Linked DNA regions of Homo sapiens: regions 2, 3 and 4 are each reported to be linked to region 1. The links are microRNA targets in miRTarBase. Many come from high-throughput screens and were not tested one by one. Region 1 holds a microRNA gene; each other region holds the end of a gene's coding sequence.
Evidence for each region. The annotated mature microRNA hsa-miR-541-5p reads AAAGGAUUCUGCUGUCGGUCCCACU and lies in region 1 at 3,158-3,182, opposite strand. An mRNA with a match to its seed (bases 2 to 7 or 8) in the 3' UTR can be bound and repressed. Matches are read on the target gene's strand: a 7mer-m8 pairs with bases 2 to 8, a 7mer-A1 pairs with bases 2 to 7 and ends in A, and an 8mer does both.

Region 1 (7,166 bases):
TGCCACTCTGAGGGCCTGGGGGGTCCTCGGATCATTTTGGTACCAAGCCCAAGGGAAGGGGCCTGCAGAGGTGCCCTGGGCAGCGGAGTTAAACAGCTGGACTCTGCACTTGGAAATGCTCTCCCTGGCAGAGGGAGGGGCACTGGAGGGAGACCCAAGTGCCACAGGCTGGAGGGACCTAGCCTGTGGGGCGGCCTCTCCAGCAGGGCTGTGGCCCAGGGGCTGGGGAAGAGGGGTGCTGAGGGAGAGTGGGAGCAGGCAGCCCAGAGGGATGGTGCCAGGGATCCCCACTCCCATGCTAGGCATGGAGAGGAGCGGTCCCGAGGAGGAGGACAAGGGGGAGGGCAGGCACAGGCTGTGACTTCCAAGGCAGCGACGTCTCAACTAGGGGATGACGGGAGCCCAGCTCAGGAAGATCTCCCGAGCCCAGGAGCTCACTGATCAACAATGAGTGATAAAGGACAGCCTTAGCTCATTCTTTGGGGTCACTCCTGAGGTGCTCCTTGCCTTCAGCCCTGGACCCTGGGCATGGGCAGCATGTTCTGGAGTCACTAAGTCTCCAGGTCAGCTGCAAACAGGCCTCTGGTCATCTTCCTGTAGTCTGGGCAGGCCAGGGGTGCAAATATGACATAAGCATCGGGTAGCTGAGAGCCAGCCCAGCCTGGGGGATGTGCCAACCGGAAGCAAGGGCATGGCGGGTGCTCCCGCTGACACTGGAATTGGGGATGCCATTCTGTCACACTTCCAAAGCCCCCCAGAACAGAGTGGAGCTGGAAAATTAACAGGCCAAGTGACACAGGTCCTACACAAAGTCCACAGGGTCAACCAGCGCAGAGCCAGCTGCTGCCTGGAGTTGACAGCAAAGAGGAAGGCATCCAAGGTGGGATTCGATATCGGAAAGAGGTTGACTGTATAATATTCATCATATAGAAAGTGAACACCTCACAGGCAACCTATTTCAGGTACCACTGAGCAGCACTGACTCCAGGGAGGAGGCTTCTTCCACAGGGAAGGGCCCTGCCACCCACCCGCCTCCAGGATGGAGGCCAGCACAGGGCTGCAGGTGGAAGTCAAGCGCGTGCTCGGCCACCAGCCATGCCTCTGGGGGCCCACAGGGCGCGCAACCGGACCTCCCCGACATCAGCAGGTGCAGGAATCATGCAGGTGGGATCTGATACTGAAGAGAGGCCGCTCGTGTCTTGTGTGTCATGATTTCTGTGAATGCAACACAGGCCACCTCTCCTCAGGCACCACAAGGAGCAGCACACGCACACGGCCACCCAAGGCACCAGCTCCCACCCAGGGTCTCACAGCACTGAGATGAGCAGAAGGCAGCCCAGGTGCAGGGAATGCATGCAGCCGCCCCCAACATCCTGGCGAGGGGTGGGTGGCCTTCCAGCAGGATGCCTTCCAGCGGGACTAGCTCCCCCGTGTCCTCTGCCTCGATGACACTGGCCATGAAAAACAGACTGAGCCCCGTCACCATTGCTCATCAGCTTCATGACCGCCCCCCACCACAGTGCACAACCCTAGCATCTTCCCCAAAGTCCACATGGCCCCCCGAAAGCTCTCCCAAAATGATTCAATGGCGGGGGTCAGGGGAAAGGATGACAAATGTCACACCAGCCCATGCATTCACGTACCCTGGAAAGTCCCGCCTCAGGCGTGGCGCCCGCACACCACCGGGCGGTAGCGGTACTGAAAACAGGCCATCTGTGTTATATTCGTCATTAATAAAAGCGAACTCATCACAGACAACCTCTTCTCAGGTACCCAGAGTGCCATCGGCTCAAGAACGTGGCTGCCGCGTCCCGTGGTGCCAGCGCTGCCCCCGGGAAGCAGTCCTGAGGACGGATGGGACATCAAAGGTGAGAAGACACAGAGACAGGAAAGAGACCCCTGCCCGGCCCACTCTCGGTGACCAGGCCCCACTGAGGCAGCGACTCCAAAGCACCCGTCCTGCTCCTACCCTCAAAAGGGCTTCATCTCCAACGGGTCCTCCAAGGTGAGATTTGATACTGAGAAAAGATCAACCATGTATTATTCGAAGTCAATAAAGCGAATATAACACGGTCGATCTCCCTTCAAGTACCAGGAAAGGCGCTGAGCTGAAGCGCGATCGGCTCCCCGGCCCGCAGGCCCCACAGGCTGCAGCGGATACGGACGGCTAGTGGACCAGGTGAAGTACATTAGAAACAATTACTTTCCAACTGGTCGACCATCCATCCCCGTACCCCAGAATGGTGCTGATGCCGGCGTCCTTCCCCGAGGTGCCCCAGCCTCCAAGACGGCCTCCCTGGTGGAATTTGATACCGAAAAGGGGTTCACCGAGCAACATTCGTCGTCCAGATGCAAAGTTGCTCGGGTAACCTCTCCCCGAGTACCATGGAGAGGCTCAGATGCTCGGACTAAGGTGAATGCTTGCAGGCGGCTGTGCTTGCAGAAGACCCTCCCCCAAGGGCAGCACAAGGTCTGGGCATTCAGAGCCCAGAGCCTCACACTCTCCAAGGACGTTCCCAATCACCAAGTCCAACGATTCCAACCCCTTCCAGAATGAATCTAGAGACTCTTCCCAGAAGTTGAGTGCAAGACCCAGGTAGGATCTTATACTGAAAAGACGGCAACCTTCCTTGGGCACCTTGCTAAAGATGAAAATGAAACCCTGCTCGCACCCGCTTTTCATTCCCAGACCCTGAGAGGGGGTGACCCTGTAGGGACCCCTGCACAAGCACAGAGCCTCCCTCCCAGCAGAGGATTCCTTTGGCGGGAGCTCAACGGGGCACAACGCTGACCCCAGACCTGCGGTCTCACCAGCACCATCTCCAGCCCACAGAGGCATCACCCCAGGATCCCTCAAAGAGTAACTTCACAGTTATCAACAGCTGGCTGACCATCTGATTAGCCTCATAAAGCAAGTGAGACATTCAAAATAAGGGACTGGGGGGATAAATGCAGCAGAAGAAAGCAGGTGAGTCACAGATGTCTTCTCTTCACAAGGGTCAGGGCAGCCCTGACCTCAGAACCCAACCTTCCCCAGACTCAGAGAACACCCAGAAGGTGCCTCCTGGAGCGGGCAGCCAGCAAGCATCGGGCCAGACGATGGATGCCACAAGCAGAGTCCAGATTCTGTGCCCACCACCCATTCTGTGAACTTTGGAGTGGGACCGACAGCAGAATCCTTTCCCTGACGTTGGCATGAGCTCAGAGAGCCCTCTGCGCCTTGCTACAAGTGGAGCAAGAGGCCAGCCATGCGAGGCCTGCTGTAAAGAAAGAAAAGATGTCACAGACGACTTCCCTTCAGGAGCCATGGGCACTGACCTGCATCAGAGCCTCCTTCCTGGGGCAGGCATCACCTCCCAAGGTGGTCCCGGAACGCACCGGAGTCAGCAGGAGTGGAACAGATGACATGCACCGTGGGTACAATCGGGCCTGTCCCATGGGCGGCCCTCAGGCACCTGCCCTGGAGAGGGCTCCGGCTGCAGGCCGCCTCCTGAGGGTGCTGTTGCTTCTGGAAATTCTCCAGGTAGGGTTTGATCTGAAAAGAAAGCCATGTGCAATGCTGGTCACCAACAAAGCAGGCCAGCAAACAACGAGCTCTTTCCACAGCCCCAGCAAGGTTTTTGACCTTGGAAACATCAACTCCAGAATGACTTTCAGCCTCTATGACCAAATGACATTCGGCACCAACGAAGGGCACGTCCTTGGGGCCAGCATGGAACCATGTAAGGTATCAACAGCAGAGTCTGAGGAAGGACTGAACCCCAGAATGTTCCTGGATGCCTGTGTGTTCATCAATAGCCTTGGAAGTGTGAAAGGAAAGTTATCTCGGGCCCCTAAAATCACTAAGGAAAACTCAAGCTGGAAGCTGCTCAGGATAAACCTGCCTCTCATTCCATTCAAAGTCATCCCTCTGCTCACTGAGACAGATGCGTATCTGATTTGCCTCCTTTGGAAAGGCTCATGAGAAACGCGAAAGAATGTAATCATTTGTGTATCACCTGTCTGTGACCTGGAAGCTCCCTCCTTCCTGCCTTCGCTTCAAGTTGTCCCACCTTTGCAGACAAAACCAATGTACTTCTTACATGTGCTGAATGATGTCTCATGTCTCCCTAAAATGTATAAAGCCAAGCTGTGCCTTGACCACAGTACTTCCTGAAGCTGTGTTACGGGTGTATCCTCAACCTTGTCAAAATAAACTTTCTAAATTAACTAAGAGCTGTCTCAGATTTTCTGAGTTCACAGAAGCAACTGTCCTGAAAGACCAGACCCCACTGACCGTAGAACTTCTGCTTCCCTCCGGAGTCAGCGTCTCACCCAGAACCCTCCGTGGGGATGGAGGGAGACCAGGTGATGCCTGTCACTTACGTATGAATGCTCTGGGGACAACATGCACCCAGATCCCCGGGAGGACGCCTTACCAGTGTGTCACGCCTGAAGTCAGCACACCTTTCCGGGAAGCTCTCGGGAAGGTTTGGGGCAGCAAGAAAAGATCAACTGCATAAAGGGGGAGACTGTATCCCATTTTTTGACCCTAGGTTCCTACTGACCCCACCAACTCCACTGTAAACACGCACAAATGTAACCACCTTCACAAGAATTGTACCAACACTGATATTCATAGAAACGTGTTTTTCAGAGCCAATGCCATTATACTAATCCAATTCCCTGTTTAGCTTTCCTGACCGCGCTGTTGAGCTGTTTTCATTTCTCTTATTTCCCTTGTTATTTTCCCCAAATCATTTTCATTAGGATCAATTTTTTCCATTTAAAAATCTGCATGAAGATTTGATTCCTCAATGTGTTCTTGTCTACATCAAATATCACTGTTTATCACCGCCGCCACCGTGAATTTCCTTCCATGGCTGCCACGTCGGCAGCTTGCTATTTCCCCAGGTCAAATGTCACAGCTGAAATGTTGTCAAGAAAATTGGATTCCTCTGCCAATTTGTAGTCAACTGAACACATTTAGCACTGTGCCGTTTCAGCTGTTTTTAGTTTTATTTTGTGTTGATTATTTTTATCAGTATTATTTAATACAAATGGGATGAGATACTGATAGCCTCTATTTGTTTCATAACCCAGGAGAAAATTGGGAACAATGTTTGGTTGGGGGATAGAAAGAGAAAGATAGAGACAAGGAAAGGTGCAGAAAGAAGCACAGTGCTTGTGAGCTAGACGGGGGTCTGGGGCTGCAGACTCGTCACAGACCCTGCCAAGTGTGAGCTCTTTGTGTATCCGCGAGGTCAAATACCTTCCGAAAAAAAAATGGTGGAGTCAAAATGTCTTTGGGATCAACACAGCCAAAATGGTGATGTAAAGAGACAGGGTCCAGGGTAAGAGCTAAAGCCGACGCGACACCAACGCCATCCTCCCCGGGCCGCGAGCCCCGCCCCCATCATGAATGAAGCTTGTGTTCTCTGAGCGACATCTGTTCTCATCCACCGCAGAGGACCGCAGAGGGCAGACCACCCACGTCTACCCCGTCCATTCTTGCTCACGGGAGGGGTGTAGATGCCCCTGAGCTTGCCACTGGGTCCCGGAAGCCATCCCAAGCAGGATTTGATACTCAAACAAAAGTTGCCTTTGTGTGATTCAACATAAATAAAGCGAATTCACCAAGGGCAACCTCTGCTCAAGGGTCAAACATCAGCACGGGCAAGAACACACCGAGATGCCTCTTCACCAAAGGCGGCATTGCCTGCGGGACCTCCCTGCTGACTCCAGCTGCAGGCTCGCTGGCTTGCTGGCTCGCTCTCTCCCCTCTTGCTCTCTCTCTCTCTCTACCTCCGAGAAGCCCCCCAGGCAGTGGTCAGAACATGGTTGGTCATGGACCAGCTTCTGTAGCCCTGGAGCAGGCAGTGGGGGCGAGGCTATGCACACACACATCACAGGTCAGCCCGAGCTAGAGTCAGCCCCTGGTCACCTACCCTAGAGGGGCTGGAACACCAAGGTCCACCTCCAGAGCCGGTATCTCCTCTGGAAGTCTCTGAAGCAGGATTTCACACAGAGAAGGGGGCTGCCAATGAACCATGTGACCGTGTTCAGTCCAGCCTACAGGGGTTTGAGGGAGGACCCGACCTGAAGGCTGGCGACTCCTCGTCCAGCGCAGCATCCTCAGAGGGTGGGTGGGGCTGCGTCACAGGGACAGCACAGGCTCAGGTGACTGTACTCCATGCACTCCATTCCAGGAGGCCTCAAAGAGAGTTCAACCAAGAAAACAGGTCACGCTGCCTATTCATTCATTCAGCATCACACCTACTGTGCACATCTGGCGACACAGCACCAGGCAAAACAGACAAGGACTCTGCCCTCAGGGAGCTTCCATTCTAGTGGCGAGAGGACAATGAGTGCAGATGACATAACATTCATATAATGACCATCCTCAGAAACAATGCTTATCCTACAGCCACGTGCCAGACGCTGTCTAGACACTTCACAAAGAGCACGTTTCCACTCCGCTGTTAACCCTGCTTTACAGAGGAAGAGACTGAGGCCCAGAGAGCTGATAGGTGAAGGGATTTTCCAAGGGCACACAGCTGGCAACATAAGGTAGTAATAAATGCTATTAACAATTCTCGTCTTGCAGTAGGAATAACCGAGTCGTGCCATGGAAATGTGTCTTTAAACAACATTAATTCTCACTGCTGAGGAAACCCCCTTCACCCCTTGCTTCCCAGAGGTCACCCAGAAGATAAGGTATTTGAGGGCGTAATGTGGATGTCTTCCATTCAGCCAGGAGTTCCTTTCCCTAAAGTGTGCCACACAGCCAAGATGATTTCACACCTAAAAAGGTTGACTAAATGTGGTTTATTCACTGACGAGTCTTCAAGGATGCGACTAGAAGACCACCATGTCAACTAAAACGTCAGCATCATTTCGGGGAATTCCTCCTAATGATGGCCGGGATATGAGCCAAGTGATGTAAGTCACACAGAGAGCACCTGTCATGCGGAGGTGATCCACTTCCTTACCCTGCGCAGGTGCCGGCTGGGCTTTCCCCTCGTGACGTTTCCCAAGAAGAATTGAGTACCGAAAGGAGATTGGCCATGTAATACTCATCATAAATAAAATGAACACACCATGGACAACCTCCATTCGAGTACCTGACTTGGGTGCTCGCTTCCAGCGCGTCCCAGCAGCAGGCCTGAGGACGGACGGGATACTGA
Region 2 (7,000 bases), not on the chromosome of region 1:
CTCTATACATGTAAGAAAACAGCTCTTAAAATTTAACCTTTGTTCACCTTATTGTCTCATTTGCCATTCCAATCATCCATTCTTAAAAAAAAATCAGAGTATATCTCTTAATTATTTCTGTAAGGTGAAAATGATTTAGAATGAAGTGGAAGAAAAATTATTAGGGACTCAACCTCACATTGCTAAATTCTGGAGAAATTTCTAGGATCAACAACTCATATCTGTAATCCTGGGCCTCCTGTTAATTCAGCAGCATTGAGTTCACTGAGCCACCTGACCCCAGCACAGGCTCAGGCTGAGCTCTTCAGGTCCTGCCATGAGAGGCCTTGTGCTGCTGGGAACATCACCCAGGAGAAAACCTGCAGCCCTTTATTAGCTATGTGCTTGGGAAGAGAAACCTCCTCAGGTGAGACTGTTTTTCTGAACTTCAGAACCCTGAACACTTAACATCCTATGCCTTAGGAGAAAGCTATGGTCAGGTGCTCACTCAGCTGGAAGTGTGGCCACCATAAGTACATCCATTAGGACTATGAGCAGTACTGGGAGCTGCACACCACTGGCCTTAGAGTTCTTCTCTCACATACAAATGCCTCTTTTGATTATGAATGTTAAAATTTTTGTGCCTTGTTTAATAATTCTGAATAAAGAGGCCTACTAAAATACATACAAAACTAGAGAAATGCTTTGTAGACCCTTTTTGTATTTTGACAGTCACAAGTCCATTGTTGTTGAACGTTTATTGAGCTCTAACAATGTGACAGGTGCCACACAAAACATTAGACACAGTACCTGCCCAGTGGGCTTACAATCTAATCTAAGGACATGAATCTTTTTTTTTTTTTAAAGACAGAGTCTCACTCTGTCACCCAGGCTGGAGTGCAGTGGCACAATCTTGGCTCACTGCAACCTCCACTCCCCGGGTTCAAGCAATTCTCCTGCCTCAGCCTCCCGAGCAGCTGAGATTACAGGCGTCTGCCACCACGCCCGGCTAATTTTTTGTATTTTTTAGTAGAGATGGGGTTTCACTATGTTGGCCAGGCTCGTCTTGAACTCCTGACCTCAGGTGATCCACCCGCCTTGGCCTCCCAAAGTACTGGGATTACAGGCGTGAGCCACTGCGCCCGGCCATGATTCACTTAATGTTGCCATGAGTTTGCTGTTCATGAAAGTGAGGTATTAACTGCACTGGTTAGTGCAGGAAAAGAGCCTACGGAATCACTGACTTTTTACACAGGCTCCCCTATGCAAGTAGGCACAACTGCTCATATTTATTCTCTCAAAGTATGGTTGGCATTTCCCCAAATTTGGTGATTTTGTGATGTGTACAAGTATCTATAAAGACAGAACCACCAAACCCAGATTTCTGAGAACCAGGGATCAAATGTGGCTTCCAGTCCAGAGAAAATGCTTGGTTATATATTCAGAAAAACACTATTATTCAAAACAGGCCCTAAGGAAAAACAGTATGGGAGCCATGCTCCTGCTCAGAGTTCCTAGAATGTCCAGAAAGCACCTCCTCAGGGCAGCCCTGAAAGTGCCCTTTACTCTCAAGGCATTTTGTCCTCAGAGCCCAGAGATGCATATACATTTGCTGGGTTCTGCCTGGGCATCTACCCAGGGGAGTTGTATCTGAGGGCCGAGTCCTCTCAGTGCCTCATGGATCACAATGTAGACAATCCACGTGCTGGTCCTTGGCAATACATCATGCTAATTTAATTTATATCTCCAGAGTAGCAAAAATGTACCACAGGTCTCCAGAATATATCAGGAATTTGTAAAAATGCAGCCCATTAAAATATCTGCCACTGATAAAAAATTCATAAAGATGCTGCTTAAAAAAACTTGTCCTTTTCTTGTCATGGTGAAGTCAAGTAAGTAACACCTTTATCTGTGAAATCACTCAGCAGAATAAATTGGTTTCATATGGAAGAAATGTAAAATAACTTATATGTATTTAAAGCAAATTATCTAGTTCTTCATTCTTGTTACTTCTATGCCTTCTCTATAGTGCAGTCTTTTGTCTCTTTGATCCTGATGAACTGATAATTTACTACTTATTACATTTAGATTCCCAATCCTTTATTCATGTGTATCTTGAATTTCAGCAAGATATGAAAATGCAGACTCCAGGGGTACATTTTGTAATGATACAAGCCTTCTGAGGAAATTTTCTGACAGGAGCTTTTAATCCTGCTGTGGTCTGTTTTACCCTTTCCAATACGGTTTTCCTCTGTGCTTGCGAAAAATATCAAAAAAGACCAATTGGCACATTCTGAATGTGTTTTCTGAATAAGTATATAAGTAGAGAGGGAGGCCATTTTGCAAATGCGGATAATGCTGACATGTCGTACTTCTAAATAAATTATAATTTGATTTAAAAAGGTTGCCTGCATGTACATTTGCCATTTTACAAAGAGCAACCGTACTCCTACCTCCACCCAAGTTGGTAACAACCTTATCTTACAAACAACCCTTAATATTTTAAAAGCTGCAGAAAAAACAAATACATGAATAAATGAATAAACAAAAAACACATAGGGAAAGGGTATGAGCTCTTGCTGCAAGGAGTAGATGAAAGACTGATAAATGAAGCTGAGGTCCCCCCAGTGCTTCCCTTTCAATAGTTTATGCTAAAAATATTTGTTTTTTAAAACTCTGCGCTTTCTTCATTTTTATTGGAACGCAATTTGTGAACCACAACTGAGTCTGTATGCAGGATCTCCAGAACGCAAATCAGAAAAAAATTTGAGATTTTATTCAGATTTTTCTATTAGATTGAGCCACTAATGTTCGGTAAGGGGCACTTGATGGTTAAAAAACACAACTGGCATGATAAAACTACACTAAATAATATCTACTTTATTTGAACAGTCATATCAAGAATGGCCCTAAATTTAATCAAGGACTAAATTTAATGAAAGACTCTGACATTAAAGACTCTGGATTGTTTGAAGGTATTTTGCCTGCAGGTGAGACTGGTTTTGAGGGCACAGAAACGTAGCCTGAATGAACCATTCAGAACTCATCATGCATCCAACTGAACACGTTTCATGCTTACTCAATTTTTTTTTTTTAAATGCAACAGGCTCAGTTTTCTCACATTGGTGCATCTCTTCATGCTAGAACTGCTTATGTCTACAGAGTCCCTGAAGAAGCAAAAATCCTTTTTTTAGCATTAAACATAGCATATGGAGTTCTTCCTCAGCTCTTGGCCTATCGTTGTATCTACAAACCAGAGTTCTTCATAAAAACAAAGGCAGAAGAAAAAGTGGAATAAAAATATTACTTCATGTTCCTCCTTTCTAAATTACTAACTTTTGTTATACTGGTACTGATATTTTGTCCCATTTCACTCTCTTCTCATACGTGAGTACTTAAGAATATGTACATTCTTGCTCTGCACTGTATGTGTGAGCTATATGGTATTGTGTAAATTTTTTTTGAAGGAAAATGGAAATTCTTGAGAAACAGTTTGTTTAAAGAAATATATTCAAAATCATTTGTGAATAAACTTGATCATCCATCTCAATATTGTTTGACATATAAAATAATTATAAGTGTAAAAAATTACAATTTAGTGCCAACAGTAGTGAGCATGAAATGAAACTATTCAAAAGAGAATATGGCCTGTGCATATTAAAAAATTCAAAACAGTGAATGCAGACTGGAGGAGTAACTTTTGCAAATAAGATGAATATGCTTCATTATTAAACTCAATATAAAAGGCAAATCATCAGAATATTTTTAAATGTTGTTTGAAAAATGTTTTCCCAAGGAAAGTTTATTATTTGCTGCTGTTTCAAGAAAATTACTTTTACTAAATTTTTTTGTGTGAATTTAAACAGCTAAATAGGGATCAGTAACTTTATCTCTATCCTTAATGAACATTTGTTTTATTGGTGGCTGGAAATATTTCTATTGTATTTCTGTGTATATTTTTAATAAAATTATTTTTGGCCTCTTATAAAGACAAATCTTATTAAATTTGAAACATTTCATATATACACATAAAACGCTTTTAAAGAAAATTTGTGAGTTGTATATTCCAATTCAAAATGCCATCTACATTCCCCTTATGTTTCAGTGTGAGCAATGAAGAGGTCTTTTGATGAATTAAATTTCATTAATTAAAAAATACATTCAAATATTCAAAATTAAAAAGGACCTTTTAAGGAAGAAGTATTAGATCGACATCCCTACTATCTTTTTATGAACTTTTCATGTTTGGGATTGTATGTTGAGTATACTAGAGAAAATCAGTATTCACTAAATGAAAGAAACACACCAAAAATACAAACAGCCACCTCCTCACTGTGCCCTGGAATGATAAATGGACTGGTGCTTTCATACCCTTAGCTGCCATCATCACCATCATCATTATTAACGGCCCTAGGCTTTTAGGTCTGCTCACATTTTCTCATGTTTTTATTAGCTCTCATCAAGAAAACCAAAAGAAAATGGGATACAAATCAATGCATGGATAATATCAAATTACAAAATCTAGGGTCCACTGGGCTGGTAAATATGTAAGTGTAAGCAAATCATGTAGTCATCTCCCCATCATCCCCTACAGTGTTTTCAAATAATCTAAAACCCAGAGAGTGTTTAAAAAAAAAAAAAGAAAGAAAAAGAAAAACCCTCACCTGCACTTGATTCTATTGTCAGCTTGCTGTGAACAATTTTTGCTTTAATATATGAATTACATTAATACCTCACGTTACATATATGAAGCCAAATTACACTAACTTAGTTTGCTTACAACCTCAAATCTTACTCCCAGTACACATTCCAATAAATTTATTCTGTAAAAACAATACATTTTTTTGTTTTTGATTTTTTTACAGTAAACTTTTCAACTACAAACCGTGAATACGCGAAAGATGTTCCAAGGACAAGCATTAACAGGATTGATAAAACCCAAACTGACTAAATGTGTTCTCACAATATAAGCTGGCATAAAAATAAATAAAATTCTCTATTATCACAATAGCAACAATAATGTACACATAATAATGGTTTAAGGATGAATATTAACTATTCTAATTGTAGTTCCAAAAGAAAACAGTTTATTTTAAAAGTCTACATTTAAAAGTCAATGCTTTGTCTGGTTTCCCATAGGGCTGTTGCTGATTCCAGCTTTAAAATGTAAAGTATCCACCTTGAGTGCTTAGCTCAAAATTGTATTGGCACTGGGAAAAAAATAAATCATTGCCTTTATTTTGGAGTAACACAAAAAGACTCACTAACTTCACATATAGAAACTTAGTTTGTGTACATAACAATATGAATTTTGAGAAGTATAAGCTGTCAACTAGCTATTTCTAATACGGAATAGATATTTTACAATATGGTTAAACTTTACACATGGCCTCAAAACTGAAGGACAATTTTAATTTCGTCTTCAATATACCAACGTTATGTATTTAGGAATTAATTCCTGGGTTCTGTCACAGAGAGGAAATTCCATTCTTAAGCATTATGTTGAGTGGTCATCTAAAAAATGTTAATTTATATTTAACTGAGTGTTTGATGATGGTGGGGTCAAGGCAGGAAAACGATGATCATAACTGCCTTGATAAAAGGATCCTAGACATGTATAAGTCTGCGCAAAAATCTTGATAATCCTTAGTGGTTAAGGGCAACTTCATGCAACCAAATAACATGAAATTAAATCAGTAACTTTTAAAAAAGGCTAAAATGTCTTTTCCCCCCGAAACACAACAGAGAGGAATATGAATAATGTACATACAAACTGGGGTTCTGTCAATGACAACAAGGACTATGTGTTGGTTCATATCAAATCCAAGAATATTAGACAACCAAACATATAACCTTCTTGTGGTTTCTCTTAATATGCAGCATTCATTATGGTAGTTAGGTCTGTAAAAAAAAAAAAAAGAAAGAAAACAAGCCTTTAGATGATTTAGGATACTAACAATGAGAGCTATCCACACCTAGATAGTACATAATTGGGTTTTCTGAAATTTTAATATGCACTGCAGCATTAACAATACTTACTGAGCAAGAGCAGCTTCTGTGGCTTTGCTTTAGACCTGTCAGTGCAAAAAGTTAAAGGAAATCCTAGGGTATTTTTAGTGTCCCATAGAAAAAAATTATAAACCTTGTCTACTGTCTGTTAGGACAGAGTGCAGCAGTGCACATTCTACAATTCTAGGACTATGTTTATTGCTGGAATACATCATCAGTGGAGAAATTGATATAATCTATCTTTGTGAGGACATTCTTCAGAAAGAAAGGTAAGCTGTGTAAAATTTAAAAAGCACTTAGAGTGTGCACCAATTAATCTTCAGAATATTTATAACTTAATTACTTGTGACACATAGCTCAAACAAATGTAGAAGTTAATCATGATGTACAAAGTCTCTGACTTCTTGCTTTTAAAAAAAACATAAAGAATAAGAGGAAGCCTAGATTTCTTTTAAAATTTAGATGGCATCCGTGTGACAAACAGAAAATAAAACATTTGTTTCATAAAAGAATTATGTTTCTATTTGGGTCCCACTTTAAATTGTGTCTGGTTCTATTTCCCCAAAAGGATGCTATTTTTTCCCCCTCATCATTAACCCAAATATATTAAACCCCCTAGTAATACCCTCATGGGATGAATGAAAGAGGGAACTCAGCCCTCAAATATTTTTTCTGAAAACAGCCTGCTTCCACTCTTAATTTCACTAAATGAATGAACATGTTTGTAAGCACATGTGCACACTGATGGGTATGTTCTCATTCAGACAGCCCAACATGTATACTAAATGGTATATATTATAATAAACGATTCCAGGACCTTCAAAGGAGAGAGAGTTACCAAAACTTCCATCCCCCTAAGATGGCAGAAATATACTTTTTATCCTTCTGTCCCTATTAAAATGAGGAAGTAAATCTTTAAAAAAAAAGTTTGAAATTTGTGAACTTAAAAAATGGAGTGCCTGGTGACTCCTAATTATTTCTTAACAAAAACACCAGTTATAAGATTATACTC
Region 3 (7,166 bases), not on the chromosome of region 1:
ACTAATGTCACTTAATGAATGTTAAGTTGCCATTTAAGATGACTCTCTCTTCCATACTTAGATCTAGCTATGTTAATAGTTCATGTTCTCTGAGGAAAAGTGGAAAGAACTGGGTGCTTATACCAGAAAAAAAGAACACATGAAGGGGAATCTTGACTTCCACTTAACAAGTGTCAGCTTTCTTTTCATGGTGGTCATTTTTTTGCTGTCCTGATCTAATTTTAACCGAGGCATACATACCACTCCAAAGAGAGCAAAGTTGAGCGTTCAAAGTTAGAGCAAAACAGACTTTACAACTAAGAAAAAAGGGGAAAGAGTAGGAGTTACTGATTACATGCAATCAATATTTGGTGTAAAATGAATGTGAGTAGTGAGTATAACTTCCCCAATTAATAAGTCAAAATCTAAATGCAGCTATTTTTCTACTTAACTATGAAGCCCATGGTCAGGTATCTCAGGTGTTTTTCAAGCAGCAGCAAAGTTTCAGGCAATCAGAATATAAGAAATTAGAACCAAGATAAATCAGACAGAATCTGTGGCAAGTATAGTCATTAAATATGAAGACAAATGGTCTTAACCATCAAGTAGCACCTGGAAGATTTACTTGCTCACATGAGATGTTTTTGCTCCTTTCAAGACAAGCACTGGAAAAGTATTCAGCGTGATTGCTTCGTTTGAAGATGATGTGGAAATAACATTATACAAACATGGAGGATTATTAAACTTTGTGGCACGAAAATTCTCATAGTATCTACTTACCATAGATACCTTTCATAACTGGTAACTGCAAAGCCTTTTGTGCTGGACCCAGGAATCCTTACCATGGAGCAGCAGATAGTCCCAGTATACTCACTTATCTCATCCATGGATGTAAATGATGATGAATCAACATAGTAACTGAAATGAAATCTTCTTGATTTTAAATAATATACGAATGGTGCTATTAATATTGCTAAAATCAACGTGTGAAGTGTGTTGTGGAAGAGACCTGTAAGTATGGGGGGGGGGCGATATTTTATCAGACCATTTTGTAAATAAAGGCAGAATTTGTGTTGAAGATTCTTATATGAATAACCTTCCTGGATTTGTTTAGTTTTGCACCAATAAAACTGTGTACTACTGTTTGTTGGTTTAAGAGTAGCAGATTGAAATATAAGAAGCCAGATTAGACTCTAAAATTGTGGCCATTGGAATCTCATTTATAAATGGACCTTTTAAGTATATTAATTCCTCTTCAGAATTGAGCTGGACACATTTGGCATTCTTAGTTTGTCATATAACCAGGTTTATCCTTAGTCTAACTGCAAGGGATGGAACCTGCCCCAGGTCACAATCATTCTGTCCAATCCAGCCAAGGTTCCCTCCACATATGAAGATGGACCATGGCAGGATACAACTGATTGTGTGGCACCATGTATTAGCAGTGGGAATATGTATCACATATGATGCAGCCTTTCATATTTCAGCAGTTTGCCACTGTGACTGTCTGGCAAGCCCCCAGATGGCGTTATATTAATTGGATTAGATTATTTTGCTCACCTTATGTAATACTGTAACTTCCTATAACCTAATATTTTCGGTATCATTAACCAAAATTTCACACTCATAGTTGCTAAAGAGAATGTTATTCAATCATTAAACTCTGAACTGATTTCTTCTATACATTTAAATTATCCACCCTCAATAATACGGGTGCTCAACCCTATGCATTTTTTAAGTGTTGCTATTTCTTAATTAAATTGATTTCCTGTCATTTTGAATCATTTATCACCTGCGATGCATGATTCTATTAATTTTGTTATGTTACTGTTTTAACCAAAGCTGACCGTAAGGATAAAACACTTAAGTTGTTGCTGAGTACTATATATCCTCAATATGCATGTCTGCCCATCACATCAAATGTTCTGTCAACAAGATGTTTGGTAATTTTTTTTAAAAAGGTTGGAAAATTAATTATAGAAGGTTCTATACTGTTTTTTTAATTAAGAAACTAAGTCTAGCAGGCTAAAGGTTAATTGTAGTGATTTTTTTTCACATAGATATCTTTCTATGACCTAGTTAGTTACTGCAATTCAGAATTAGTTCACATTGCATAAAGAATTACTTGTTGTAAGCAAAATGCTGAAACTACCAAACCAGTGGATGAAGACCACTAAGAACTTTGCACATAATCATACAATCTTTTGAAAATATTTTGCAAATATGTGTTTAGACAATAAGATGGACTAGAGTTCGACAAAATGATTTCTTTATTTAAATTTTGTATAAGTATTTTCTTCGACACTTTCAAATTATATTGTGTTCTTGATATATGCTGTATATTTATTTGTTAGTGCATGTGTTTTTAATTTACATGAAAACATGAGTTAGGAGAAATTACAGGTTGAAAGATGAAATGCCTGTATGTGCTCTGAAGAAATGGTAATTCCAGATTGTGCAGGGGGAAACAAATCTATTTTGTTTTGTTTTGTTTTTTGAGACGGAGTCTTGCCCTGTGGCTGGGCTGGAGTGCAATGGCGCGATCTTGGCTCACTGCAACCTCCGCCTCCCGGGTTCAGGGGATTCTCCTGCCTCAGCCTCCTGAGTAGCTGGGACTACAAGCATGCACCACCACGCCCAGCTAATTTTTGTAGTTTTAGTAGAGATGGGGTTTCACCATGTTGGCCAGATGATCTGAATCTCTTGACCTCGTGATCCGCCCGCCTTGGCCTCCACAAGTGCTGGGATTACAGGTGTGAGCCACCACACCCGGCCTATATTGTTTTGAAAGCATACTCTATATATAGTTATGGGCAGAGGCACAGGCATCCTCAGCAGCTGATTCAGGAGATGATGGTAAAGCTAGCTAACTATGAATTAAACATTCACATATCCAGTCTACCTGGTCCAGTAATAATACAAGCAAATCTTGTATTTCAGGAACAAATCAAGGTTCTCTTAATTTTTTGGCTTATATACAATGAAGTAAAAACTTGATAAACATGGTTTCAAATTGAGGAGGAGAGTCTTGGATGTATGTTTTAATATGTATACCTTATAATTCTGCCTCTAGCCAAATGCTATGTTTGCAAAATGTGGCATCTGTTAGTTTTTATTGTCTGTGTCTTCTTTGTTTACTATACCTTGGGTAATTTTGTGTTACCAAAAAAAAAAAAAAAAAAAGGAAGTGTAATGTCAGACACACAAGAAAAGCAAATCAGTGTTGTAAGCTTAAAGTACAATTTCAAAGGTCACTACCAACAGCAGGGTTTTTTTTATACTTTGAAAACATTATGCTACATATCATTGCCATTTTCATATTTTGGGGTTTTGCTACTCTTATACAATGGAATCAATGGAAATGTCATCCAGCCACTGAATTGCCATTATTATATCTAAAAAGTTTCTAAGATGACAGTTATCACTATTTTGTTTTATCTCCATGCTGACATTTGAAAGAAGGTACTAGTATCCCTCTAGCCAGATTGCTTAGTTTTTCGTTGGTAATCAAACAACAGTTGTACTAAAGGAAAGTAAAGCTAGGACCTAAATCAGAATCATAGTTGCCTGCATATATGGTAACAAGGTCGTGTGCATTTGCTTTCACAGTGATGAGTGAGAGGATGAGAAGAAATTATTTGACATTTTTCTGTGGTTGAATAGAAGACACCTTTCTTTTGTCTTTAGGTTTAGGAGGAGATACTAAGATACTGGATGTTTATCCTATCTTAGTTTGGTTGGAGTAATAAGAGAGAAGAAGAGGGTGGACTTTGGCTTTTCAGTGTTTTTTCCCCTAAAGAGTGATATTGCTGACGTTTCTATCAATTTTACACATAATATGTGGCTATGAAACCATATATCTCACTTAAGTAACAAAGTAATCACTTTGTCTATCACTAAGTAATAGACAAAAATCATTGTCTATTATTTAAAGCCAACAAAACAGTGTAACAGTTTTAAGTTCAATAATGTTAAGTATTGTATAGAAATATATTGGAGGCAAAGTTCAGTTGATGACAATTGTGTATATGTTACTGATGCTGTAAATTATTTTTAATAAAGAAAATTGTATTATCACATTTGATTCTTGTTCTGTTTTGTAGTAGTTGAAAATAAAACAACATGATGTAAAAAATATGCTGCCATCCGGCTGGGCACGGTGGCTCACGCCTGTAATCCCAGCACTTTGGGAGGCCGAGGCAGGCGGATCACGAGGTCAGGAGATCGAGACCATCCTGGCCAACACAGTGAAACCCTGTCTGTACTAAAAATACAAAAAAATTAGCCGGACATGATGGCGGGCGCCTGTAGTCCCAGCTACTTGGGAGGCTGAGGCAGGAGGATAGCATAAACCCGGGAGGCAGAGTTTGCAGTGAGCAGAGTTCACGCCACTGCACTCCAGCCTGGGCGAAACAGTGAGACTCTGTCTCAAAAAAAAAAAAAAAAAGCAAAAATGAAATGTCCCGCCATCCAGATGCCATCCAGGAGCAGCTGAGGATGCCTGCTCCCTGTGCTGCCCGTTCATTAGTGTTCATGAAACAAGTCATCGGAAGCTGGGAGCCAGGATCCCAGGTGTATTTGTTTGTTCTCGCATTGGTATAAAGAAATGCCTGAGACTGGGTAATTTATTTTAAAAAGAGGTTTAATTGGCTCATGGTTCTGCAGGATGTACAGGAAGCATGATGCTGGCATCTGCTTGGCTTCTGGGGAGGCCTCAGGAAACTTACAATCAAGGTGGAAGATTAAGTGGGAGCAAGCACTTCACGTGGCCAGAGCAGGAGGAACAGAGAGACAGGGGAGGTGCCACACACTTTTAAACAACTAGATCTCAGGAGAACTCACTATTGGGACAACACCAAGGGGGATGGTGTTAAACCATAAGAAACCACCCCCATAATCCAGTCACCTCCCACCAGGCCCCACCTCCAACACTGGGGATTACAATCCGACATGAGATTTGGGCGGGGACACTCATCCAAAAAGACGTATCCTTTCTTCCCACTATTATTAGCAACCTAAAAGAGTAAGGTTTATTTCTTAGAATTCAGTAATCATAAACCATAATTGGCACTTTATTAGAATTTTCTAAGGATTCCAATTTAGTATTCTAAGAAGTTTGCATTACCTAAAGGCTAATACCAACATAGGCACAAGCTGATAGTTTGAATATGCAGTCTAGGAGGAAACTTAAGAGCTTCATCAGTGTAGCATTTAGTTGGTTTACAGTTTTCACTTGATGCTAATTTTGCTTTTTAATTACAAAGTAGCTTCAGATTTACCATTTTGATTTGATGTATGTTGTAAACCTGTGTTCTGTACTTGAAAAATGCATTTATTGCAAAAGCAGATGCATATGTAATTCTCACAAAATTTGCTGGTATAATGACAAGTGTGGCCAGGCGAGGTGGTTCACACTTTGGGAGGCCAAGGCAGGAGGCAGGAGGATCACTTGAAGTCAGGAATTTGACCCCACCCTGGGCAACATAGCAAGACCCTGTTTCTTAAAAAATAATAATAATTAGTTTGGTGTGGTGCTGTGCACCTGTAGTCCCAGCTAGTTGGGAGGCTGAGGCAGGAGGATCGCTTGAGCCTAGGTTGAGGCTGCAGTGAGCTATGATTTATGCCACTGCACTCCAGCCTGGGTGACAGCAAGACCCTGTCTTTTAAATAAGTGTGTTGTCACTGTGAATTTTGTGTTTATGTGGTGTTAGTACTGAATTTTAAGCATTTTTTTCAGTATTTCCCTATCAATATCTATATGATCTGTGGCAGGGTCCCTTTTTATTACCAATATTGGTAATTTGTGTTTTCTTTTTTTTCCTTGATTAGTCTTTCTAAAGGGTTAGAAATTGAGTTAATTTTTTAAAGAGCCAATTTTTTACATTATTTTCTCCATTGTTTTCTGGTTTTTTGTTTGGTTTTGGTTTTGGATTTTTTTTTTTTTTTTTTCTTTTTGAGACGGAATCTGGCTCTGTTGCCCAGGCTGGAGTGCAATGGTGCGATCTCGGCTCACTGCAACCTCCACCTCCCGGGTTCAAGTGATTCTCCTGCCTCAGCCTCCCGAGTAGCTGTGATTACAGGCATGCGCCACCATGTCTGGCTAATTTGTTTTGTATTTTTAGTAGAGACGGGGTTTCACCATGTTGGCCAGGGTGGTCTCAAACTCCTGACCTTGTGATCCGCCCACCGGGGCCTCCCAAAGTGCTGGGATTACAGGCATGAGCCACCGTGCCCGGTTTGTTTTGTTTTATTGGTTTCTGCTCTGAAGTATTTCCTTTCTGTTACTTATTTAATTTCCTCCTTTCCCCCAGCTTTGTAACACTTTTCCTCCAATGTAAATGTAAATATTTAAATTTTCCTCTAAGTGCTGCTTTAGCTGTAGCCCACCGTGGAAACTAAAGCCAATTTTGAGCATTTTAAACAACTTGTAATATATAAAGGAAGTATCATAAAACTGCTGGGATATTGTTTTATGAGACATTGTTTTATAATGTAAAATCATGTCCATAATCTCACTGCAAATTGTTCATTTTGTTTCACTCCAGTTTTGTTTTTTTTTTTTTTTTATCGCTGAGCTCTTTTTTAAAAAAATTATAAAAATAGAGGTGGGGGTCTCACTGTGTTGCCCAGGCTGGTCTTGAACGCCTGGCCTCAATCAGTCCTCCCACCTCAGCCTCCCAGACTGCTGGGATTACAGGCATGAGCCACCATGACCAGCCACTGAGCTATGTTTGAGAGCAACTACTTAAAAGTGCTCCAGTAGCCAACTGAAGAAACGTTAATACAATGACATGACATTTTTCCCCCCTAGAAACGGGTCTCACTATGTGGCCCAGGCTGACCTCGAACTCCTGGGCTCAAGCACTTTTCCTGCCCAAGCCTCCTGGAGTAGCTGGGACTATAGACATGCAACACCATGCCCCGCTTAAAATGACATATCTGGCCGGACACGGTGGCTCACACCTGTAATCCCAGCACTTTGGGATGCCAAGGCGGGCGGATCACGAGGTCAGTTCGAGACCAGCCTGGCCAACATAGTGAAACCCCGTGTCTACTAAAAATACAAAAATTAGCTGGGTATGGTGGCATGTGCCTGTAGTCCCAGCTACTCGGGAGGCTGAGGCGGGAGAATCGCTTGAACCCAGGAGGCGGTGGTTGCAGTGAGCTGAGACCGCACTGTTGTACTC
Region 4 (7,166 bases), not on the chromosome of region 1:
AGTTTGATTCCAGCTCTGCTACCTTCAGCTGTGTTGCTATGGAAAATTATTTACCCTCGTGAGCCTAAGTTTTTTTCGGTCTACAATGAAATAATAATGCATACATTGTATGGTTGTAGGAAAATTAAGATGCTTATAGTAGCGCTGGGTAAATTGCATGTATGAATTGCTATCATTATTAATAATAATAGCAAATACTAGTATAGTGCTGACAATGTCCAACATATGGTTTTAAGAGGCACACATACAATATCCATGTATACATAAATATGCATTTAATCCTTAAATCCTAACTGTAAGAGTTAGGTTCTGTTATTATCCCTGTTTTACATATGAGGAAACTAAAATGTACAAAGGGGTTAGATAGCTTGCCAGAGTCACTCAGTTAGTAAATGAAGGAGCTGGAACATAAACCAGGCAGTCTGGCTTCAGAACTTTCCCTCTTATCCATGTCACTGTAGATCCTTTACATTGTTATTGTTTAATCATTTTTTGTCATTTAGTTTTCTGCACATTAATAAGTTTTACTAATTGATTATTTTGGAAGGGAACTTACTTTGGAAAAGTACTGAAAGTCACATTTATAGGCTGTCAGAATAATGCTGGCCAGTGATTCAAAACTAATTTCATTCAGCTGTTTTCTCCAGAAAGGAAATGCTTGTGAATAAGCACAGAGACCCAGAAGGTCTATCCTGTACATTAGCTAAATTTGTGTGTTTAAAAAATGTTATATATCTTAGGTTAGGTAATGGATAACGTTAGGGTATATTTTTACTGTGTTGTGTCTATTAAACATTTGAAAACCTATATGCTGTTTGCCTTTTAGTCATTAAATGTTTGCACATTTGAATGTGTTTTCATTTGATGGTGAGACATTATGATGTCAATTATGAGAGAAATTACATTTAATGCTTTTGCCTCATTGGTAATGTTAGCTCATTTATTGTTTAGTTTCCTGTGAATTCATTCATCATAAAAATAATAATGAACCTAATTTTCTATTTGATACAGTCTAGTGGAAAGAATTCTAGAAGGGTTTAAAATAATGGTTGTAATCTCTGCGGTTTCAGATCTGGGGATTATCTCTTTAATCCTTAATCCTAACTGGATTATCTCTTTAAATAAAATATGAGACAGTGTATCTCGAAGAAGAGCCTTCATGTGACTTGAATCTGCCATTGAATTTAGATCCTTTGCCACGTTAGCCTTTTCTGTTTTCCCATCCCACATAAGATAAGTCAACTAAAATGAATTATTTTATTTTATAAACTATATTAATACTTGTTTACTGTATTCTTTGTTTTACAGATTTGCTGTCATGAACCGAAAAGTCCTTGATGTTTTTGGTACTGGTGCATCTAAACACTTTCAGGATTTCATCCCCAGGTTGGATCCAAGATACACAACTGTAACACCAGAGTTGCCCACAGAGTTTTCCTGAAGATGACTGTAACTTATTAATGTGACTAAATGTTTCATCTTGAAGAGTTAATTATGTTGAACACAAAGGAGGGGGCCCAAGCTCGAACTTCAGTGTTATTTCAGTTAGAGATACTCTTTTCATTTGTTTTGTTTTTCTTATGAATCAGAAATTCAGAAGCTTTTTAGGAAGATGTTGCTTAATAATTAAGCTTCCTCCATAGCCAGAATAAGATTCTGGATCACTGTAGTGACTGACATTATATATTATTGATCAAATTATGTCCACAAGCAATATTATATAATCTACGTAGAAGTGTAATAACAAACAAGAGTACACTTAAAATTACTTTAAAAGATGTCTTTAGTTCATTCCAATATAATTCTTGATTAAAATTAGGATTATTTCTACATTTTAGGATTTACAAAGGATCACGGGTACATGGATTTGGTCTATATATTTTTTTAAAGTTTTGAATTGGTATCTGTAGTAGTGGAATGTTATAGATTTGAAGTAACTCTCCACGGACAGTGCTGCTTTCGTGTAGAGCAATTTAATTGGAGAAGTGGCCATTCTTACTTCAGGGATGCAAAGATGGGTCTCATACCATTTGGATAAATGTCGTGGTATCCATGCTTTTTTTCAACTAATAACATCATCTCTCTTCATGACCAGTTAATTGGGCTATTTGGCAGCCCAGTGAACCTATGTACTAATGGCAAGTTAGGGGCAAATGGAAATGGACACATCCGATAAAGTTGAAATGTATGTTTTAATCTTTCACAGAAGTATTACACTTGAATATTTAAAAACAAAACTTTTAAACTTCCTATAGGTTTATGATGTTTGTTTTCATTTATATGGACATAATCCTTCATAGCTCAGTTTATATGCCATTGTTGTATTAGAAGGGATCAAAATCCTATGGAACAAAGTAGTCTTGGCAAGTTGGCAGTTTGTGTCCTCTCAGCTGTTTAACTTATGTAATGGATGTTTTGCACCTGAAAACACTATAAAAATCCAGTGGTTGTTTAAAAAGTCCATTTGTCACTAATTCCATTCAGGTTCTCCAACCTTCTTCTTGAATATCATTGTCACCATTTTTACTGTTAGAATAAAGAGGTGACACCATAAAGTCCTGCTGATAATGAGAGTAGTTCAGGACAGCTGTGATTGAAATATGGTCGCTATTTACAGTTTTTCAGGGAAAAGTTATACTTTTCTATGTTAATAAAGAGCTGAAGTGGTCTACAGTTAATGTGACATGTAGGGATGATGATATTTTTAAAATACATTTTGTTGCTAAAAAGTTTTTAGGCCAGTGCAAATTATGCAGTAGAACTTGTGTTGCAAAAGGAATTATAACCCATACTTTAAAAATGCTTAATCCCTCATATTCAATTTCATCAAGCCTTGTATACTTCTGCTTAAATGTAATTCAATCCTTGGTTGTTATGGCAAACAGAAACCCAACAAAAAGACAGACTCTGGTACTATGGTAACAGAGCCACTTTATCATTTGGTCAAAATTTGGCATTATGATTAGCTTTGTAGAACTGACCTGTTTATTTGGCAATGCTGTTAAAGGATCATTTCGGTTTCAGACTTCAAAGTTGATTAATAAATTTAATCTTAACTTTTTATTCACTGGAATCAAAACGATGGTTGGTACTGTGTTTACTGTTTAAAATGAAGTACTAAAGCCCTGAGAACTGCACCTCATTTTCTTTATCCAGAAATTGTGCTTATATATTTTCCTGTCAGGTTTAAAAAGATGTTTTAATTCATAAATTATTGTTTTCATTGACATTAAAAGACTGTGATATTGAAAGATGAATTACGAAATTTGCTGAGATTGTTTAGTAAAATTTTGCTGGTCAAAAAGGTGTATTTCTACAATTTACCTTTTCATTTTTATAAATTGCAGTCATTTTTTTAAATTTTATGTAAAATGTAAAATGAAATAGCTATCATGAAGCAGAATACAATGATGAATGTATAGGTTGAGTGAATAACCAATTTGCAGTGGTGGATTGAGAAGTCCAGTTTGATTTCATTGGGACAGACTGCAAAGTGTAGTTGTTTGAGCAAACACAAAGAAACTTTGTGTTTTTGAAGACAATCAGAATGATTACCTTTCTACCTCTAACTAATCAGGTATTGATTGACAACTTTTTGGCATTATAAATAAAGTAAAATAGATCTCTGCATTCCAAAATATGTTTTTTAGTTTATTTATATCCTGAAGAAATGGTAAGTTTTCACTGGAACTGATTACAGTAAACAATAATATGTCCCCTTAGTCTTTCTGACATTTTTATATAGATTGAGATTGAAAAACCGTGCATTTGGGGCAGTGGTATTATGGTCATTTCGTTGCTATTTTCTGTTTTAATAAAATCCTAGAACTAGTAGCAACCGAGTAAAGATTGAGTTTGCAAGATAACAGATTGTCTCAAATCTATTCAATTCTCAGCAGTTTTTCATCAAATAATTTCAGGATCCATTTTATTACTCATTTTTGAAGTAACACCTTTGGTTTAGTTTTATTTTCCCATAAATTCTGCTTTTGCTTCTGTAACTTTTTTCTTGAACTATAAGCATAGTCATCACTCAGTTGATATCTAGTTTATTTTTTGCCTTCATTCGTTGTTTAGTCAGTTGTTATTTAATTTAGAATTTTATATTTTTTTGGCTCTCAGATTTTATAATGAACTTTTATTAGACTGAACATGTATGTTTTTGATGGAATCCAAACTGAGCAAATGTCACACAGTATTTTCTTGTTGTGCTCGAGTGTTCGTCTCCTTGTAGATTGTATCTAGGCTAACATTTCATTTAGTTGTTAATGCTGACGTAATTGTTTCCTGCTTATATTTTATCATATCCCTGAGCTTCTGTGTGCTCTACATTTCATAGGTAATGAAAAGCAATGTCCTTTACTCTCAGGGAGCTTCGTCCACTTGCCTGTGTCACAACCTCTCCCTTGGTGCTAATTAGGAAGCTTCTTGTGGGACTGAAGGGAACTGACCACTGGAGCAATGGCCCAAATGTTGTTTTTGGAGCAGAGAAATTATTAGCCCAGAGATTCCTTAAATTCTCCGTGTGATTTATTTTTTTATTTTTTGAGTTGAGGTCTAGCTCTGTTGCCCGGGTTGGAGTACAGTGGTGCAATCATAGCTCATTGAAACCTCAAATTCCTTGGTTCAAGCAATTATTTCCCCTCAGTCTCTAATAGCTGGGACAACAGGCATGTGCCACCATGCCTGGCTAATATTTATTTTATTTATTTTTTTTTTGTAGAAACAAGGTGTTGCTATGTTGTCCAGGCTGGTCTTAAACTCCTGGCCTCAAGTGATCCTCTTGGGTTGGCCTCCCGGGACTCTGGGATTCCAGGTGTGAGCCACGGTACCTAGCCATATTTTTATTTGTATGAGTATTAAGTAGTTTGACACAGCAACAAAGTTGTCCTTTGTTTCCCAAAGGCAAAAGTATACATTTCTTACTAAGATATCTTATAAACATTCTCTCTCCTAACACCTCCTTCTAGTAATCATTTTCACATAGTAGAATACTTCACTCAGCTGAAAATGAGTGGCCAAGAAAAAAATACAAGAAAAGGAATAAGAAGTGATTATTTTCTTTAGGGCTGCACTTTGAATGTGATGAGTAATAAGGTTACCTTCATTGTGGAGGTGATGTTTACAATTGCCTCCAGCCCTTTACTATTGGTGCTGAAGCCACCATTGGTGCCAGCTCTATAATTTCTTCTTCTTGTGGAATTAACAAAGAAAGGAGTGTCAAGGACTGAGATGACCCTCAGATTGGGGGGCTGTCTTAGATTCTAGGGCTTTGTAGTACTATGTTTCTGTTTAAAGTAGTGGCCTCAGGTGACTTTGTAATAGCCCTGTAGTTGCAAAAAGGGTAACTACAAAGAAATGAAACTGACTCTAGTGTGTGTGACTTCTGGAAACAGAAGTGGGGCAGTAAGTTGGCCATGATATAGCTAGTGTCATAGGACTACAGCAGAGTAGTGAGTGAATGGCCTTAAGCTTACAGCTGTGGTGAATAAGAATGTGTGCTATTTTACACACAGAAGAAAATGATTGACTTTTGGTTGGAGGAAAGAATTTATATCTGGTCTTTTGGAAATTATTCTGTTGCTGTTTTATGTGGGCTCTCTCTCTCTCCCTCTCTCTCTCTCTCTGTCTGTCTCTCTTGCTGCTCCCTCTCCCTGCCACCTTGTCCATTCTCTGCTTGCTGGTGTTACTTTATGTTAACTAGTCTCCTTGGACTTCATTGCAACCTTTTAAGCCAGCCGTTCAAGTGAGAGGCTCTGGAGTGATCATAACGGTGATAACAATGGAGTAAACATTTCCAGAGACACTGATTTTTTTTTTATATGCTCTGTTTTTCTTAGGCAGGATGATGTAGAAGATAATTGCACAGATATGGAAGGAGATGTTTCTCTGTATGTGAAGCCTTTAAATCCAGAACAATTAATTTCTTCTCTTCTTAAAACCCCGTAACATCACTTGACTCTGGAATTTCCTATTTTCTTTTACTTTCTCCATTTTTTTTCCATCTGTCCCTCCTACGAATATGTTTTACATGAAATAATGTATTGGGTTTTATCTTTTGTCCCAGCAGACCTGAAAATCCCAGTATATTACCACAGACACACATACCATCTGGTCACCAACAGGGACATCAGGGCCAAGAGCAGTTTATACTTCTTTCTTTAGCTCACAAACTACTATAGCTTGCCTGTTCAGTTTTTTTTTTTTTTAATATTCAGTTTTGTGCCATACTCTCCCCCACCCCCAGCCTGCTGCCTCTGCAGAGCATAACATTCTAATCTTGTCAGACCGTGGATAATAGGATGTTCCCTGGTCTTGGCATAGAGGCCATAGGCATACAACATGCTTTATCTGCCTTGCTTAGACTCAGCATCCCTTTCTGTCTTGAGAGATTCAGGCTTCCATAAAGTAGACCTGTAGACCTATGTTGGCTGAGGTCACCCTGCATTACTACTTTCCTCCATCCCTGAACTAGGACCAGTTAATTTTCGAAGTCTAGTTCTTCAGTGTCTATTAAACTTTTTCCAGTAGTTAATCGATCTCTTAAATTAATTTTCTTTTCAGATTATTTTTGGTCACCTAAGAGGACCCTGAAGCTATAGTGCCAAAGGTTTAAAGCATGAAGTACATTCTGTGGTTGGTCATTATGGGATTGGATGCCAAAAGGAATGGGAGAGAAGAGACTATAAACATATTTTAAGCCTTATCTCTTTTCTCCTATTCTTTTCTTTACCTTTCCTGGCCCATGCTTTCCTGCCATATCTTTGCTATGTATTTCTTCATCTTGAGCTCTCAAGGGAAAAAACAGGAGTCCTTATTTTTCTATTTATTTCAGGGAAAATTGAAGGTAAATAATATCTGCAAAGCTTCAGGAAGAAATTCAGTTGCATCTGAATCTGAGTCGGCAGTTTTTGATAGCCTGTCACTGCTCAGGGATAGCACTAAGGCTCTCTTCAGAACCAAAGGGCAGGATAAATAAATCTATGAAACTAGAGGCATCATTGAATCATCTGAGGACCTTTTTTTTTTTTTTTTTTTCACTAAAACGCTTCCTATAACTTGGATTAAAATTCAAAAATGGGATTGCAGTCATTGTTAATTGCTCAACTAGTGGCAGTTTTTCCTTGCTGAGGGAACACTGATGTTGTTTAAGACAGTTACATGCC

Region 2: miRTarBase lists HDGFL3 as a target of hsa-miR-541-5p. Seed matches in the 3' UTR shown: 7mer-A1 at 5,019-5,025.
Region 3: miRTarBase lists IREB2 as a target of hsa-miR-541-5p. Seed matches in the 3' UTR shown: 8mer at 813-820 and 7mer-A1 at 1,289-1,295.
Region 4: miRTarBase lists TMEM135 as a target of hsa-miR-541-5p. Seed matches in the 3' UTR shown: 7mer-m8 at 2,289-2,295 and 7mer-m8 at 2,861-2,867.

The regions. Positions count from the first base shown.
Region 1 is chr14:101,060,520-101,067,685 of GRCh38, reverse strand. MIR541 (microRNA 541) reads right to left here and starts at 3,191; the gene lies at 3,108-3,191. MIR496 (microRNA 496) reads right to left here and starts at 7,113; the gene lies at 7,012-7,113. MIR377 (microRNA 377) reads right to left here and starts at 5,636; the gene lies at 5,568-5,636. It overlaps MIR409 (microRNA 409), which reads right to left and starts at 2,386; the gene lies at 2,308-2,386. It also overlaps MIR412, MIR369, MIR410 and MIR656.
Region 2 is chr15:83,133,396-83,140,395 of GRCh38, forward strand. It overlaps HDGFL3 (HDGF like 3), which reads right to left. Exons shown (of 6, transcript NM_016073.4): 6 at 1-5,880. The coding sequence ends at 5,875. TM6SF1 (transmembrane 6 superfamily member 1) reads left to right here. Exons shown (of 10, transcript NM_023003.5): 10 at 3,086-4,013. The coding sequence ends at 3,277. Among named protein-coding and RNA genes, the nearest start is that of TM6SF1, 29 kb to the left of the region's middle.
Region 3 is chr15:78,497,396-78,504,561 of GRCh38, forward strand. IREB2 (iron responsive element binding protein 2) reads left to right here. Exons shown (of 22, transcript NM_004136.4): 22 at 638-4,058. The coding sequence ends at 748. Among named protein-coding and RNA genes, the nearest start is that of HYKK, 6.6 kb to the right of the region's middle.
Region 4 is chr11:87,319,893-87,327,058 of GRCh38, forward strand. It overlaps TMEM135 (transmembrane protein 135), which reads left to right. Exons shown (of 15, transcript NM_022918.4): 15 at 1,309-7,166. The coding sequence ends at 1,441. It also overlaps the pseudogene LOC100420680. Among named protein-coding and RNA genes, the nearest start is that of TMEM135, 290 kb to the left of the region's middle.